Linked DNA regions of Homo sapiens: region 2 is linked to region 1. The links come from fine-mapping of genetic effects on gene expression. Tissue or cell type: whole blood. Region 1 holds a variant in brackets; the other region holds the start of a gene. All regions are shown on one strand. Distances are from middle to middle.

What was found. PIP is the estimated chance that this variant, and not a neighbour inherited with it, causes the effect.
Region 2: it holds the start of CELF6, and the variant in region 1 is fine-mapped to the expression of CELF6 in whole blood (TOPMed, PIP 0.93).

The regions. Positions count from the first base shown.
Region 1 is chr15:72,480,110-72,489,211 of GRCh38, forward strand. All of the region lies in intron 1 of ARIH1 (ariadne RBR E3 ubiquitin protein ligase 1), which reads left to right. Among named protein-coding and RNA genes, the nearest start is that of ARIH1, 10 kb to the left of the region's middle. The variant C/T (reference allele first, on the strand shown) is at 4,585.
Region 2 is chr15:72,314,976-72,324,077 of GRCh38, forward strand. It overlaps CELF6 (CUGBP Elav-like family member 6), which reads right to left and starts at 5,182. Exons shown (of 13, transcript NM_052840.5): 1 at 4,638-5,182; 2 at 870-952. The coding sequence starts at 4,899. RefSeq lists silencers at 4,869-5,208, 5,269-5,318.

The sequences.
Region 1 (9,102 bases):
CCGCCCACCTCGGCCTGCCAAAGTGCTGGGATTACAGGCATGAGCCACCGTGCCCGGTCAACAGTGTACTATTCTAGCATATTGTTTACTGATTGGGGAGTCAGTTATAGCCCTGGTTTTTACTCTGTCTAGTTAATATCTCAGAACCTTCAAATTTTTTTTTTTTTTTTTTATACATGTCTCACTGTGTCACCCAGGCTGGAGTGCAGTGGCCTGATCTTGGCTCACTGCAACCTCCACTTCCAGGGTTCAAGCGATTCTCCTGCTTCAGCCTCTCAAGTAACTGGGATTACAGGCACGCGCCACCACACCCAGCTATTTTTTGTATTTTATTAGAGATGAGGTTTCACCATGTTGGCCAGGCTGGTCTCGAACTCCTGACCTCAAATGATCGACCTACCTTGGCCTCCCAGAGTGTTGGGATTATAGGCATGAGCCACGGTGCCCAGCCACACTTTTTGTTGTTGTTGTTGAGATGGAGTTTCTCTCTTGTTGCCCAGGCTGGAGTGCAATGACGCGATCTCAGCTCACTGCAACCTCTGCCTCCCAGGTTCAAGCGATTCTCCTGCCTCAGCCTCCTGAGTAGCTAGGATTACAGGCGTATGCCACCACGCCTGGCTAATTTTGTATTTTTAGTAGAGATGGGGGTTTCTCCATGTTGGTCAGGCTGGTCTCAAACTCCCGACCTCAGGTGATCTGCCCGCCTCGGCCTCCCAAAGTTCTGGGATCACAGTGAGCCACCTTGCCCGGCCTTGTTTTGTTTTTAATCTGGGACTGAAAATGAGGGAGTTGAAATACTAGGTTGGTCCTTTTTTACATTAAGTGTTTTATTCGTTTAACATCATTTTAAAAACCTCAGTTAATTGGAGATGTTCATTTTTTCCAAGAAATTGAATTCAGGTGTGCATATTGTGGTTATGTTCATTAATTGGGAGAGGAGGAAGAGGGTGTACAAGCCTGTGCATGATGTGTGCAGGCACATGTGTTTTGAAGTTATTAAAGTGTTTGATATAGTTTAGATTTATTTCTTTTGGACTTTTATATTTTCCCAGCTGATCTCCTTGAGCTGTAAGTTTAAATTACACTGACTTGTTGAATTGCTATGGCAGTAGTCCTATGAATCAAACTCTGGGGATGGGGTCTGGCTGTCTGTTTTAACAAGCCTTCTAGGTGATGGTGATGCAAGCTAAAGTTTGAGAACTGCTGATGTAGTTGAAATTTAATAGCAGTGTTTCTCTATGTGTTACGTGTAGTGATAGATTACTACAGAGGTGGGTTAATGAGGGAAGATAAATTGTTTAAGAAACTAATAATAGGGGACCAGTCACGGTGGCTCACACCTGTAATCCCAGCACTTTGGGGACTGTGCCAGGCAGATCACTTGAGGTCAGGAGTTTGAGACCAGCCTGGCCAATATGGTGAAACACTAGCTGGGCGTGGTGGCCTGTGCCTGTAATCCCAGCTACTTGGGAGACTTGAGGCAGGAGAATTGCTTGAACCTGGGAATTGGAGGTTGCAGTGAGCTGAGATAGTGTCACTGCACTCTAGCCTGGGTGACAGAGGGAGACTCTACTTCAAAAAAAAGGTAATAATGGGAAAATTTCCAGAACCTAGGCAACGTTTACTAGGCTAATCATAGGGTTGGAAGATGTTTGTCATCGTAGATGCTATCCTTCATGCTATGCTATCCTTCAGCTAAGGTGGTCTTTACTCAGTATTTTCTTTTCTTTTCTTTTCTTTTTTGGAGACAGAGTCTTTTCTCTCTTGCCCAGGCTGGGGTGCAGTGGCGCCATCTCGGCTCACTGCAACCTTCGCCTGCTGGGTTCAAGCGATTCTCCTCCTTCAGCCTCCCGAGTAGCTGGGATTACAGGCGCCCACCACTACGCCCGGCTAATTTTGTATTTTTGGTAGAGACGGGGTTTCACCATGTTGGCCAGGCTGATCTCGAACTCCTGACCTCAGGTGATCCACCCGACTTGGCCTCCCAAAGTGCTGGGATTACAGGCATGAGCCACTGCACCCGGCCAGTATTTTCAAATAGACAAACTAAACTAGTGACATCTGACATTCTAGATTGGAGTTCTTGATTTCCCTTCCAGTCCTAGATTTTTTTAATATAGAATGTTGAGTTTTCTAATTTATTAGTATGCTGGAAGAGATATAAAGTCCTGGATAGATATAAAGTCCTGTTTAAAGGAATATGAGAAGACTTATTCTTAAGGAGTTGAGAATCTCTTAGAGTTAAAGCTGTTAGGTTAGTGAGTAATTTAAATAAGTGGATAGTAATAGATACTCATGGAAGAGACCTCTGTAGGTGTTGTCAAAGATGGCTAGGATTTGGGTGGATAAAAAAGAGGAAGTCATTCTAAGGAACTGAATGAGGTGAGAATGAGGAGAGTTTTTGGGTAATGGTGAAATCAGCTAAAGTAGAATGGAGCTTATAAATGCTGGATAATAATGTAGAACCTGGGAGATTAAATACTGTGATGAAAGGTAAGCAGAAGTCATCACATTAGATTCTTTTGGGGTTGACCTGTGGTAACTATGTAGATTGGTTATCTTTTGCCTTATGTTACCCCAAAACTTAGTGGCTTAAAAAAACAAGGATCTGTTATATCATAGTTTCTGTGAGTCACAATTCTGGATGCAGCTTACCTGGGGGCCTCTGGCTTATGGTCTCTTACAAGGCTGCAACCAAGGTGACGGCTTGGTAGCAGTTCTCTCTCTCTCTTTTTTTTTTTTTTTTTTAAAGACAGAGGCTTGCTGTGGTGCCCAGGCTGGAGTGCAATGGCATAATCTCGGCTCATTGCAACCCTCACCTCTTGAGTCCAAGTGATCCTCTTACCTCAGCCTCCTGAGTAGTTGGGACTATAGATGTGCACCACCACACCCCAGCTTATTTTTTTGTTTTTGTGGGTTTTTTGGTAGAGACCAGTATTTTTTTGTTTTGCCATGTTGCCTAGGCTGCTCTTGAACACCTTAATTCAAGGGATCTGCCCGCCTTAGCCTCCTAAAGTGCTGGGATTACAGGCATGAGCCACCGTGTCTGGCCTGGGTAGCAGTCCTCAAGGCTTGACTGGGGAAGCTTCCCCTTCCGAGCTCACTCATTTGGCTGTGACCAGGCCAGATTTTCACTGGCTGGTTGTTGCCCAGAGATATCAGTTCCTTGCCATGTGGGCCTCTCCATAAAGTGGCTGACAACACAGTAGCTTGTTTCCTCCAGAGTGAGGGATCTTAGAGAAAAGGCCCATACGATGGAAGCCACAAAGTTTTTATAACTTAATTTCAGAAGTAACGTCGCATCACTTTGCAATATTCTATTTGTTGTAAGTGAATAACCAAATCCAGCCCATACTCAATCGGAGGGGATTATACAAAGATGTGAAGACCAGGAGGCAGGGGTCTTTGGGGGCTATCTTAGAGGCCGGCTGTTTGTCTCTGTCTCTCTCTGTTAAGAGGTAAATTACAGCTATTGTATAATGCCTTTCTATCCAATCTTTTTGTATGCTATTGGGAGAACATAGTGTTTTGGATTTTTTATTTTGGATTAACCGTAAATTAATTACTTTTGGCTTTGCAAAACATTATACCTGTAAATGATAAACATTCCTAATAACCTTTCAGTGGCTTAAGTTTAAAATAGCTTGTAGTCTCAGAATTGGTAGGAATTTGAGATTCTCCAGTTTACTGATTTTTTTTTTTTTTAACTCTAGCTACGTAATGGAATCACCTGGGGATTTTTTTCATTACTGTTTTTAAAATAGAAAATTGTAGATTCACAGCCGGGCATGGTGGCTCACGCCTGTAATCCCAGCACTTTGGGAGGCCGAGGCAGGCGGATCACCTGAAGTCAGGAGTTCGAGACCAGCCTGGCCAAATGGCGAAACCCCGTCTCTACTAAAAAAATACAAAAATTAGCCGGGCATGGTGGTGGGCGCCTGTAATCCCAGCTACTCGGGAGGCTGAGGCAGGAGAATCACTTGAACCCAGGAGACAGAGGTTGCAGTGAGCCAAGATTATGCCATTGCACTCCAGCCTGGGCAACAAGAGTGAAACTCCATCAAAAAAAAAAAAAAAAAAGAAGAAAAGAAAAGAAAATTGTAGATTCACATGCAGTTACAAGAAATAATGCAAAAATCCCACATATTCTTTTTTCCAAAAAATTTTATTTCCCTAGGTTATTGGGGAAGAGGTGGTATTTGGTTACATAAGTAAATTCTTTAGTGGTGATTTGTGAGATTTTGGTGCACCCATCATCTGAGCAATATACACTGAACCCAGTTTGTAGTGTTTTATCTCTCACCCCCTTCTCACCTTTTTCCCCCGAGTCCCCAGAGTTCATTATATCAATCTTAGGCTTTTGCATGCTGATAGCTTAGCTCCCACTTATGAGTGAGAACATATAATGTTTGGTTTTCTGTTCTTGATTTACTTCTCTTAGAATAATAAGTCTCCAATCCCATCCAGGTTGATGCAAATGCCATTAACTCATTCCCTTTTATGGCTGAGTAGTATTCCATCATATATATATATATATGTGTATATATATATGTGTGTGTATACATATATATACGTATATGTATG[C/T]GTGTGTATACGTATATACGTATATGTATGTGTGTGTATATATGTATATATATATGTGTGCATACATATATATGTGTATATATATACATATATATACACACACACACACACACCACAGTTTCTTTATCCACTTGTTGATTGATGGGCATTTGGGCTGGTTCCCCATTTTTGCAGTTGCGAATTGTACTGCTACAAATGGCGTGTGCAAGTATCTTTTTCGTATAATGACTTTTCCTCTGGGTGGATACCCAGTAGTGTGATTGCTGAATCAAATAGTAGTTCTACTTTTAGTTCTTTAAGGAATCTCCACACTGTTTTCTATAGTGGTTGTACTAGTTTACATTCCCACCAGCAGCGTAGAAGTGTTCCCTTCTCACCACATCCATGACAACATCTATTATTTTTTAATTTTTTGATTATAGCCATTCTTGGCGTGACTGAAGTTGTATAGCATTGAATCCCACGTACTCTACCGATTTTTTCTACAGTGGTAACATCTTATAAAAACAGTATCTTGCAAAACATCTTGCACAGTATCACCATGAGGGTAATGACATTGATGTGATCTTACTCAGATTTTCTTACCTGGGGATTTTAAAAAATACAGGCAGGCAGGCCCTACCCCATACCAAGTAAGTGGGTCTCTGGGGGGTTTGGACCAGGCATTGCCGTTAAACAAGAATCTTTCCTGGATTATTTTAATGCACATCCAGGATCGAGAGCTCCTGCTTTTGTAAGAAATCTTTCTAAAACACTGCCGTCTCTGCTTAACTACAAATAAATAACAGTGAGCTATTTTTGTGATGCATCTCAATACAGTGTTTGCCTATTGATTTTTTTTTTTAATGGAAAGAAAATCTACTTCCGTATTAGCTTTCACTCATTGTTCTTAGTACCTGTAGCACCCTGAATGGTTTTGTTTTTTATATAACTATCATTTTGGAATCCTGAAGGAAAAATTTTTCTTCCTGAGGTTAATCAACCCCCCTTTCCTCAGTCATTCCTGCCTTCTAGGTAATTGCTGTCTTTCTTATAATAGGCATAGTATCATAGGCCATAACTTTGCTAAATTATTGACTGTATATACACAACTCATCGTTTGATCTTGACACTATATTACTATGTAACTTTGTATAAATAGCTTAATTATTTTCATTAAATGATGGGATAAATAGAAGAATGAGAATTTATTTAGGTTGACATTATTGGATGAGATAGTAATCAGGCTGTTTCTAACCTGGAGTGACTGGATCCTTTGGGGCCCATGGAGATAGTAGTGGTGGTCCTTGCATTATTTTCAGTGTTTTAAAAAGCCTCATGTATATTTTTTTAAAAAGCTGTCAAGCCACTTTTATAAAGTCAGTAGATTTCTATAATCACTTATGATTTAAGTTTCTTTCTAAATTTTTAATTTTTTTTTCCCTAAATTGTCATTCACCTAGTGATAGGAGGTCATCTGGCTTGACCATACAATGGTTTCCCCTTATCTACAGTTTCAGTTTCCAAGGTTTCAGTTACCTGAGGTGTGCAGCAGTCTGAAAATATTAAATAGAAAATTTCAGAAAAAAACAATTTGTAAGTTTTAAATTGTACACCATTCTGAGTAGTGTGATGAAATCTCTCACCATCCCACCCAGGACGTGAATCATCCCTTTATCCAGTATATAGCAGTATATAGACTACCTACCTGCTACTGGCCTCGGCTGGTCACTTCACTGTTACCAGATTGAAAAAACATAGCATGTATAAGTTCGGTATTACCTACACTTTCAAGCTTCCACTGAGGGTCTTGGGACATGTTCCCTGAGGATGAAGGGGACTGCTGTAATGTCTCATTTGATACAGCTTGGGGTATAGTTGATGCCCAGTTAGTGTTTAAGTGATGGATAGTATGCTATCTCAGAAGGTGGCTTAAAAAATTCTTAATGCTCTCTAACATCTGCTCTGGCAAATCAGCTTTCCAGAGCCCTACTTTTTTTTTTTTTCATTTTTAAAAATGACTTTTTTTTTTTTTTTTTTTTTGAGACAGAGTCTCTGTGGCCCAGGCTGGAGTGCAGTGGCATGATCTTGGCTCACTGCAACCTCTACCTCCTGGGTTCAAGTGATTATCGTGCCTCAGCCTCCCAATTAGCTGAGATTACAGGCATGCATCACCACACCTGGCTAATTTTTGTATTTTTTGGTAGAGACAGGGTTTCACCATGTTGGCCAGGCTGGTCTCGAACTCCTGTCTTCAGGTGATCCGCCCTCCTCAGCCTCCCAAAGTGCTGAGATACAGGCATGAACCACTGTGCCCAGCCTGACAATTTTGGTTTTAAGGCCAAAAGTTTGAAGATTTAAATGAAAAATGCCAAATATTCAGGAATTTTCTCCTATTATTATTATTATTTTTTTTTGTATGTAAATATTGTTGTGTAGTATTGTTCTTTCCTTTTTTGCTCTGTTCCATTTAAAAGTGTCAGAAGTGCCCTGACAATACATTTTGGCAAAAAACAGAGCAGGTAATGAAGTATTAGGTAACATTTTCTTGTTACTGAGACATTTGCTTAGACAATGCTAAGAATAGCTATCATCCTAGACACTTCTCCCCAGGCTTGCTTTGCCATTGCCTTTGAAACTGTCATACTTATAACTCAGATATTAACTGGCTCTAATTACCTGGTAATATGTCCTCTCTCCTAATCACAATTGTACAGTGTTTTTAGGGATAAAGTGTAAACTAGAAACCGAGAAGTATTACCTGATTCTTAGCAAGTATTTATAAGTGAAAGCCTCTAATGTGGACATTTATCTTGGAATTTGTGACATTTGGACAGATATTTATCTGAAACTTACTTGAAACTCAAATTTAATACCTTCTCTCTTTGAGGCTTTTCCCCCTTTTATTGGCTTATCTGAGAACCATTCTTGGGATTTGAGTCATCCTTTTTTTTTTCCTTCATTTTCCACATCCAGTTATCCCTGATCAAGTTACCTCTGAAATTTGTTTCATGTTGTTGCTATCCTTTTTACTAACTAATCCTAGTTTAGGACCTTTTTATTTTGCCTCCTTGTCTCTGGGCTTCCAGTGTATCATTCTGTTACCAAACACAAATTTAATAGTCATCCTCCTGCTAAAAAGAGACTTTCTGTCAAAAGTCTATCCCAGACTCCTTACTATGGCATTCATGGCTTCCCCATCTTAACATAGCTAATTTTTTTCAATCTCATCTGCAGTTGTTCCTCATCCCTTATCACCCCCAGTTGCACTGTTTGTAATTCTTTACTGTGTAACACATATTTGTGTTTTCATGCTTTTGTTCATACTTGTCCCTCTTCTTTTGATACCTTTTCTTTTCTTTCTGTCTCTCTTTTTTCTTGAGACAGGGTTTTTGCTCTGTTGCTCAGGCTGGAGTGCAGTGGCACGATCACGGCTCACTACAGCCTTGAACTCCTGGGCTCAAGCGATCCTCCCACCTCAGCCTCCTGAGTAGCTGGGACTACAGTTGCATGCCACTACACCTGGCTAATTTTTTGTATTATTATTTTTATTTATTTATTTTTTGTTTGTTTGTTTTGTTTTTGGTAGAGACAATTTTTTGCCATGTTGCCTAGACTGGTCTCGACCTCCTGGACTCAAACGATCTTCCCACCTCAGCCTCCCAAAGTGTTGGGATTACAGGCATGAGCCACCGTGCCCAGCTCTCTTTCTCTTCTTAACTGCCTGATATATTCCTATTGAGAATCTGCCAGGCTGGCTGCGGTGGCTCATCTCCTTTCAGGTTCTTCTCTACCTTTCCTGTGCTTCCTTATCTATGTTTGAATAGTGCTTCATATGGATATTTGGTATAGCCTATAAGAGGTTATGATATAGCTATCCCTATATCCAAGCCTCTAGCTATATATGAGGGTTTTGAAGGTGAGAACTAAAACTCCTTCATCTTTGTGTTCATAGCAGAGTTTCTTCTCTGACAGAAGAAACTCAGTAAATATTTGTTGAAGTTTGTCCTTGCCTAGTAAATGCTTGCTTTCTCAGTTTCCTTGTGGTAAACCAAAGGGATCCAGACAAGATTTTCTTCTGGCACTAACAAATTATTTTATGATTTCTAGATAATGCCAAAGTGGTAGTGTAAGAAGATGGCAAGGAAGAAATGTTTGAATTCCAAGAGGACAAGCTTCTTAAGGTCCCTGAATATTCAACCTTTTAGGTGAAGCTTTATTATTTGCGTATAGTTCCCTGGCGCTGGGTGTGAACTGACACAGTGATGATGTTAAAGACAGTGGAATCACCCAGGTGCAGTGGCTCACGCCTGCAATCCCACAACTTTGGGAGGTTGAGGCCAGAGGATTACTTGAGTCCAGGAGTTTGAGACCAGCCTGGGCTACATAGACTTTTTCTCTACAAAAAAAATAAATAAAATTAGCTGGGCTTGGTGGCATGTGCCTGTAGTCAGTTACTTGGGAGGCTGAAGTGGGAGAAGAGGATTGCTGAGCTCAGGAGGTCAATCAAGGCTGTAGTAAGCCGAGATTGTGCTACTG
Region 2 (9,102 bases), 170 kb before region 1:
CATCCCAACTCTTCCAAACTATTATTCCAAATATATCTTGTGTCTTTACTTCATCCTCGTCTCTTTCTTGTAGACAAACGACTCTCTTAAATTTGAGAGGCCTAGAACTGGACATAGTCCCAAGTTTGGCCTGTGAATGGCATTTAAACAGTGCTCTGTTCTAGACACACCGCTTCTTGGACAAGAGAAAACAAGGCTGTATAGTATGACTTGCTCTTGGTAAACCCATGCTAGTTACTAACGATCACCCCTTTATTCTGCCATATGGTCAGTAGGTCCCACCTTGCCTTTTGTTGACTGATTATCCATTAGCCAAGACCAGACCAGGTACCATTGGTGCCTACAAGCCAAGCTGCCTGTAGAATCAGGTCTCCCCTAACTTTAGCCAAGTGTTTGCAGTGTGGAGGGAAGACAATCTTAGTGAGTCAAGGCACCAAAAATAACCATTACAGGAAAAGGACTAGAGAGAAGTTCCAGCAAGGACCTTAGGACTAGAGAAAATGGGCTACCAGTCCAGCAGAACCTCTACCCCATGTATCTGCATACATGCTCACACCAGTGACAAGAGACACCCAAAGCCATAATTTTACCAAGGTGAATAAATTCTAGCTTAGCCCTCAACACTGATGCCTCTCCTAAAAGATGGGTGGAACGCCTGGCCCAAGGATCTTGAGCCCCTTTTTTGAGCCAGAAGATTGGATGTAACAAAGAATTTGTTGCTGTTCAGGGTACAGGAAGCCCTCTCCTAGAAAGATGACTCTGCTTCTAGTTCTCGGTCCCAACCCAGCCCCCACATGCTGCTTTGGCATGCACACAGGGCACTGTCCCCAGCCTGAGGTGATTCCCACCCCCCAACCTGGAGGACTTACCCCTGGCAGGGTCTTCTGCTCGTGCAGTGCACTCTGGGCCTTGAGAGCAGAGTCCCGGGCGCAGTAGGTGAGGAAGGCACAGCCTGAGGAGGAAGAGGCTGGCTCAGGGGGTTTCCTGAAACCCCCAACTATTCTTCTTCGAAATACCCCACTAAGTTGACAAACTTAAGGCCACTCTCCTTTAAGCAAGGACTCTGCTTTCTGAGAAGCCCTCTCTGCCTCCCACCTCTGGAGGGAGGGGCTTCATGTGCCTGGGGACCAGTGTCCCAGGCTCTGGCTCCCTTTCATTTGCTCCTGGCATCCTGCCCAGAGAACATATGTGCCCACACCCAGTCACATGTGCATACAATCCCACATCTCCCCTCCCCACTCCAGTCACAAGTCCTGTTGGGGTTAAACCTCCCTAAGCAGCTTTATCATCATCTTTAACCCAGACTTCCCCTTCCTTTTTGGATTCAGACTCATGGAGTCTCCCAGGATCAGCCTCAATTCCTTCCCAACTCAGTTTCGGATGGGAGGAGGCAAAAGAGTAAAAGAAGGATTGGGAGCCAACCCCAGGAGCCCCCAGCTCTTGTCCATGTCTCCCTCCCCTAAGTTTGAAGCTGGGGAATGGATTGATTTGAGACTTAGAAGATGGGATTGGTTTAAGGGCTTCCCATAGGTGGGAGTTTCCAGGGACCCCCTAATCCTGTTCAAGGATCTTGATCTGTCAACCCTCCTAGGGCTTTGAGGTAGGGCCTCTTAAAGAGTTATTGTGCCTCAAATCTGGCTCCTCTAAAAGGGCCAGCATATATGGGTCAGCGAAGAGGTCTAGGTTGAGCCAAAGGGTCAAGTTTAGCCCTCTGTTTGTTCAGCCTCAGGACCTGTAGCCTGCTAGGAAGCACTGAAGCAGCACTCTCCTCCTTTCCAACAGCCACTGAGCACTCATTCATTCAGAAAATATTTATTGAACACTTACTTATTATGGTGGGGCATTTTGATGACCTTGGAGATAGAGTGGCAACAAGACACACATTCCCTGCCCTCATGGGGATTAGACAAATCATGAGGGACCCCTAAACAAGTCCAAAGGGTTGAGTAATGTCTCAAAGAAGGCACTGAGTCCTCGAGAACAAGAACACTGAGTCCTTAACAATCAGGTGATGAAAAGGACAGTGATTATTTCAGACAGAGGGAAAAGCATATATGAAGACTGAATCAAGAATTTGGTGTGTTGGGGAAATGGATAGGTTAGTGTGGCTGGAGGCTGGTGTATGGGGGCAGAGTGGCTAGTGAGATATGCAGGAATCAAGTCATATGTAGCCTTGTGGGCCTCAGTTGGATTTTGAACTTTTTCCTAAGAGCAATAGAGAGCCACTTTAAAGGGTTTTAAGCAGATCTGTGAGATGATAAGATCTGTTTTCAAAAGGAGCATTCTGAGTGTAGGAGGGAGAAGGACTGAAGGAGGAGAAAGTGGATATGGTGAGCCATTAGGAACTTGGGGCAGATTTCCACTTAGACCTCAGCAGATTAGAAAGGCAAATGGGAACATTTTTTTCTGGCCTCTTCTACAGGGCTGCCCCATTAAGATGGGTTTATTGCCGGACATTCATTGAGTTAAAGGGAACTTAGAGAACTGAGCAAAACTCTTATCACATCAACAGGGAAACTGAAGCCCAGAGAGTGGGTCAGTGGCAGGGCAGGATTTGGAATGTCTTAACTCCCAAGCTGGGGTTGTTTTCAAAGCACTGTGGCTGCCTGCCTCGGTACCCAGACATCAAAAGGAAAATGAGTCACTGTTTCTGGGGAGAGGATGAGGAAGATGTTGACTTGGAGACCCTCTACAATCATCTTGGAAGGCAACACTTGCCTTGGAGAGTTGTGATTTAGTTTGGAAATAAATCACCAAACACCTGATTCCACTTACATCCCTGCTCTGTGTTTTGCTACCAACCCATATCACCTGACGTCCAAACCGGGCAGGTTGCCTGTCTGAAAGGCTCAGGGGCCCAGTTGCTGCCTAAAGAAGCCCCATGTGGACTAGCCGGGATAGAGGGTGGAAGAATGAAGGGAAGAAAAGACAGAGAAGCATGGTTTGAGAGACAGATGAATGAAAATAACAGGCAGAATTAGAGCTAAATGAAAAGAGAGAGGATGAGGGAACAGTTCAGAGACTGATAGTGAGAAGAGTGAGATTTAAGGGTATTCTATACACTTCCCTTATTGTACGGATGGCCTACAAAGATTAGCTTTGTATGTACATCCTGAAATCAATGTCTAAAAATAAGAAAATGAGTTACTACAGAGGGATGGACAGACAGGCAGGTAGTGGGAGTGCATTAGAAGGACTCTAGATGGTGAGGTATTGTCCTTTCATACACCCATTAACACAATCCCAGCCCAAAGGGTGGAAGCTGTACTCCTAGCCAGATGGTCCTAGCTCTTCTATTGGCATTTTCTCGAAGTGCCTACATTAGTGTGCCAAGGAACCCTACGAGGCCTCCAAGTTGAAGAGGTGGCAGTCTGATTCCAGCTCTCAGTCCTTAGGAATGTACCTTTAGCTGTTACCCAAGGCCCACCACTCCTCTCTTAGGAAGATCATGGAGGATAGTTGGTGACTCTTTCCCAGCAAAAACTTGAAAGCACAGCATGGTGGTGGTGGTGGGGGAGGAGATAAGAGTGTTCCTTCTCAAATCATCTCCCCTTCTCCTGCCCATGTATGACATGTGACTCTGGCTCTCTTACTCCAGCCCTGCCTGGACAGACTTTTCTGCATGTAAACAAGCCTCCTCCCTCTCTCTACAGGAAGAAAGGGGTGTGGCCGAACAGGACCGTGTATCTCTCTAGAAAGGGCAGGGAGAAGATCTCCTTCTGTCTCTTCAGCCTGACTCACCCTGAGAATGGGCCTGGACTGGGACCAGCCTGTGAGGGGAGGGAAAGAAAGAGGCCATAAAGAGGACTGGGGAGGAGCAAAGAAGAGGCACAGGAGTGAGGGGATTAGAGAAGGAAAGAAGTGTGGATTTAGCTGAGAGAAATCCAAGAAGAAAGGGACACAGGGTGGCAGGAGTTCCCAGCTGAGGTCAGGGTTCTGAACTGAAATCAAAAGAGGTAGAGTGCATTGGGATTCTGGCGAAGGGCAGGAGAGATTGGGGCTGTTGTTGAACATGAGGGGGTGTCTGGAACTGAGAGCCTCCTGGGAATTGAATTGGATTTTGTGTTAGACAGGTCTGGGTTCTGAAGAAGGGGAGGGTTTGGGTCTGCGGTGTTTTAGGTTGGCAGTCTGAGAGTCAAAAGAAGGCTCTTGAGGGGGATGGCCGGACTAGGAGGCCAGAGGAGGGGTGCAAGTCCAAGATATGCATGTGGGTGGTTAGGCCTGAGTGAGGTGCCACCAGATGGAGGATTCAGGAGTGTTTGGGCTCAGGGTTTGGGAAATTGAGGGTATTCGAGATCTAGAAGGTGGAATAAGTTTTCAAATTCCAGAATTTTAGGTCTGATGGGAGAGGTGGTGGAAAGGTCCAATTGAAAGGCAGGGACTGCTGGGATGTGAGAGGTGGAGGCCAGGAATTTGGAGGTTAGAGTGGAGAACATGTTAGGGGACCACAGTGATAATCAGAGGGAGGATGTCAGAGAGAAAATTCTGTGATCTGGGAAGGGGGCTGGGCTGAGGTGGGGCTGATATTGGACTGGTGTTGGACTGGCTCTCGGCAGGGCTAGGGCTGGGGCTGGGCTGGGGTCGGGCCACACTCTAATCGGATTGGGGCTGGGCTGGGCTGGGCTGACCCCGCGCACCTTTGTGGAGGCCGGTGAGCCGGTCCTTCAGCACCGTCAGCTCGTAGATGCGGCCGAACTCCTCGAACAGCGGCTTGAGGTCCTGCTCGTCCAAGCCCCGCGGGATCTGCCCCACGAAGAGCTTGATGGCGTCGTGGTCCTTCATGGGTACGGCGGGACCGGGGTTTAGCCCGCTCATGCCGACGCCGCTGTCCGCGGTGCTGAAACCCAGGCGCGGGCCGGGGCCAGCGGGCTGCGCTGACCCTCCCGGCGCCGCGGCCATGTCCCCGCCCTGTCAGCCCTCCCGCCGGTCCCACTGGTCCCGCCTGTCCCGCCGTCCCCTCCCTGGACCGGTGGCGAGGGCCAGGGGGAGGGGGCGGAGCCCGGGCGGAGAGGGCGGGGGGCTGCCCAGGGGGCGGGGTCCGGGTGGAGGGGCGTAGAGGGGGTGGGGCGGGCAGGAAAGGGGCGGGGCCGGGGCGGGGCGGGCCCGGGCCGAGGTGGCGGCTGAACGCTGGGGTCTGGCTTGAGGTCCCCGTGCGGCTCTCTCTGGGCTCCCGCCCGAGCTCTCCCAGAGCCGAGCCCCGAGCCCCAGCCCCCGTGCTTGGTGACGTCAGGCAGCTGGCCGCCGAGTCTACGCAAATGATTTGCATAATGAGGAAGCAGCCGCCAATCAGAGTGGGAGTTGACTGGGCTCGCCGGGGGCGGGGGGGGCGGCTGGGCTCACGCGCTCCTGCTCGCCATGGCAACCGGACCCTCGAATGCCCTGTGTGTGTCGAGTGTGTGCGGGCGTGGCCGTGGATCGCGCGTGTGCGCCTTGGGCCGCGTGAGGGGAAGCAGCTTCGTCATGCGTGATGGTGTCTGCCGGAGTCGGGGCTAATCCCCACCGCACACACAGGCACACACAGGCAAACGCAGGCACACGCAGGCACACACACCTCCAAACGCTGGTGCGTTTCCTGCGGGGGTGGATGGGGATTCCTCTTCTCTATTCCCACTATCGAGCCAGTCCCTCGGAGCCAATCCCACCCCGCCCCATCACACATCTCTGTCTTCGGTGTCTTTAACCACTTTCTTACCCCTGAGCCTCAGACACATTCGTCTCCCTTGCAGCCTTAAAAAGAAAGGAAGAATAAAATAAAAACCCCTTAAACACTCCTTGAACACGGATTCCTCCTTAGGAGAGTGAGGGAACTTAGCCGTATTTACTCAGAACCCATTATGCACCAGGTGCCCAGTTCATCCCAGTTCTGTGAACTCAGGAGTGTTCTCTTTTTCCGGAAAAGGAAGCTGAGGTTCTGAGGGTCGAGGATGTTAGGGCCAGGCCCACCCCAACATTTGTTGGGCCCAGCGCAAAATAAGAAATGGAAATCGACATACTGTGCATCTAAACATTTAAAAGATACAAATCAAATTACAATTTGTTAAATATGTTCCCCTCTTATTTTCACAAATACAGGTTCAGAATTACGAAAATGAAAGACATATGTACAGCTACGCTTTCTATATGACTGAAAGTTGGCAAAATATCAGAGCTGATGGAATTTTATTACTCCTGCACATGTCTAGGTATTCTCTTGATGGATCAGTGATGTTTGCACAAAGTAGTAATACAATGTTTGGACAAAGACACATACTTCATAAATTATATATTTATTCCATAATATATTTTTCATGCCTCTTTCAGTAAAATTGCTAATTATTTTAATAGAGATTTCCTTTTTTTTTTTTTGATAGGTTATCATTCTGTCACCCAGGCTGTAGTGCAGTGGTGCGATCTAAGATCACTGCAGCCTCAACCTCCTGGGTTCAAGCGATCCTCCCACCTAAGCCTCCCAAGTAGCTGGGATGACAGGTGCACGCTACCATGCCTGGATAATTTTTTTTCTTTTTTTTTTTTTGTAGAGATGGTGGTTTCACCATTCTGCCCAGGCTTGTCTAGAACACTCCTGAGCTCAAGTGATCCACCCACCTCGGTGCCCCAGAGTGCTGGGATTACAGGAGTGTGCCACTGCACCTGGCCTAATAGAGATTTTAACATAACTTGTGTCCATTGACTATTCTAAGAAACTGCTGGAGACCAGCAGTAGCAACTGGAATCATCAAAAAGTTCTTAAAACAATATTCAATTCAGAAGCAAATCATGATTTTTAAATGATTTATTTTTCTGGCTGAGCATGGTGACTCACACCTGTAATCCCAGCACTTTGGGAGGCCAAGGCGGGCAGATCACTTGAGGTCAGGAGTTCAAGACCAGCCTGGCCAACATGACAATATCCCGTCTCTACTAAAAATACAAAAATTAGCCAGGCATGGTGGCGGGCTCCTCCTACTCTGGAGGCTGAAGCAGGAGAATCGTTTGAACCCACGAGGTGGAGGTTGCAATGAGCCAAGATCGTGTCACTGCACTCCAGCCTGGGTGACAGAGTGAGATTCCATCTCAAAAAAAAAAAAAAAATGCAGCAGCAAATTATGATTTTCAAAAATCATTTTTCTGGCGGGATGCGGTGGCTCACACCAGTAATCCCAGCACTTCAGGAGGCCGAGGTGGGTGGATTGCTTGAGATCAGGAGTTTGAGACCAGCCTGGCCAATATGGCAAAACCCCATTTTTACTAAATGAATAAATAAATAAAATAAATTATTTTTCTCCTTTAACAGAAAGTTACTCCTTGTAATAAGTTGACCACGAAATGGGTTACTGGAATTTCATTTTCATTCAGTCCTATGTAGTTTTTTTTTTTTTTTTTTTTTTGAGATGGAGTCTTGCTCTGTCGCCCAGGTTGGAGTGCACTGGCCCGATCTCAGCTCACTGCAAGCTCCGCTTCCCGGGTTCACGCCATTCTCCTGCCTCAGCCTCCCGAGTAGCTGGGACTACGGTTGCCCGCCACTACGCCCAGCTAATTTTTTTTGTATTTTTAGTAGAGATGGCGTTTCACCATGTTAGCCAGGATGGTCTCGATCTCCCGAGCTCGTGATCTGCTTGCCTAGGCCTCCCAAAGTGCTGGGATTACAGGTGTGAGCCACCATGCCTGGCCCAGTCCTATGTATTTTTTAAAATTTTCACCCCAAAAGTAGTAAAACAATTCAAAAATCAGAACAAAGTTCTCTGCAGAAAAAGAAAAATACAGTAAAAAATTTCCTTGAGGCTTCCTCTTTGATCCATATATTATTTATAAATGTATTGTTTAGTTTCTAAGTGTTTGGAGGTTTGCCTATTATTTTTCTGTTATTGATTTCTAGTTTGAGTCCATTGTGGTCAGAACACACTGTGTATAATTTCAATTTTTTTTTTTTTGAGATGGAGTCTCGCTTTTGTCACCCAGGCTGGAGTGCAGTGGCGTGATCTTGGCTCACTGCAACCTCTGCTTCCCGGGTTCAAGCAATTCTCCTGCCTCAGCCTCCTGAGTAGCTGGGATTGCAGGCACCCGCCACCATGCCCGGCTAATTTTTGTACTTTTAGTAGAGATGGGGTTTCACCATGTAGTCCAGTCTGGTCTCCAACTCCTGACCTCAGGTGATCCGCCTGCCTCAGCCTCCCAAAGTGCTGGGATTACAGGTGTGAGCCACTGAGCCTGGCCTCAATTCTTTTGCATTTGTTGAGGTTTGTTTTGCTACCCTCAGTCCCAAGCCTGGGACTACAGGCGCCTGCCACCACACTCAGCTATTTTTTTTGTATTTTTAGTAGAGATGGGGTCTCACCATGTTGGCCAGGCTGGTCTCAAACTCCTGACCTCAAGTGATCCGCTCCCCTTGGCCTCCCAAAGTGCTGGGATTAAAGGTGTGAGCCACTGTGCCCAACCTTGTATTTTTAGTAGAGAAGCGGTTTCACCATGTTGGCCAGGCTGGTCTTGACCTCCTGACCTCAAGTGATCTGCCCACCTCAGCCTCCCAAAGTGCTGGGATTACAAGTGAGAGCCACAGTGCCTGGCCCTATATGCTTGCTGATTTTGTCTAGTTGTTTTATCAATTGTTGAGAGAAAGGTGTTGAAGACTTCAATTGTAATTGTGGATTTGTCTATTTCTCCTTTCAGTTCCATTAGTTTTTGCTTCACATATTCTGTAGCTCTGTCATTTGGGGCATAAACATTAAAAACTGTGATGCCTTGATGAATTGATACTTTTATTATTATGCAATGTCACTCTGTTCTTGGTAAGCTTTTTGTGTGGAGAGCTACTTTGATATTAATATAGCCATTTATGTTTTCTTTTGATTAATCTTTGCAAAATATACCTTTTTCTATCCTTTTACTTTCAAGCTACGTATATAGCTGTATTTAAGTGAGTTTATTTTAGACAGCATATAATTGGGTCATTTTTTTAAAGTCCACTCTACTAATCTTTGTCTTAGTTGACATATTTAGACCATTTACATTTAATGTAATTATTGGTATTACAGGTGTGAGCCTGTAATTTACATTTACATTTAATGTAATTATTGGTATGTTAGGGCTTAAGTCTGTCACTTAATTTTTTGTTTTCTTTTTGTT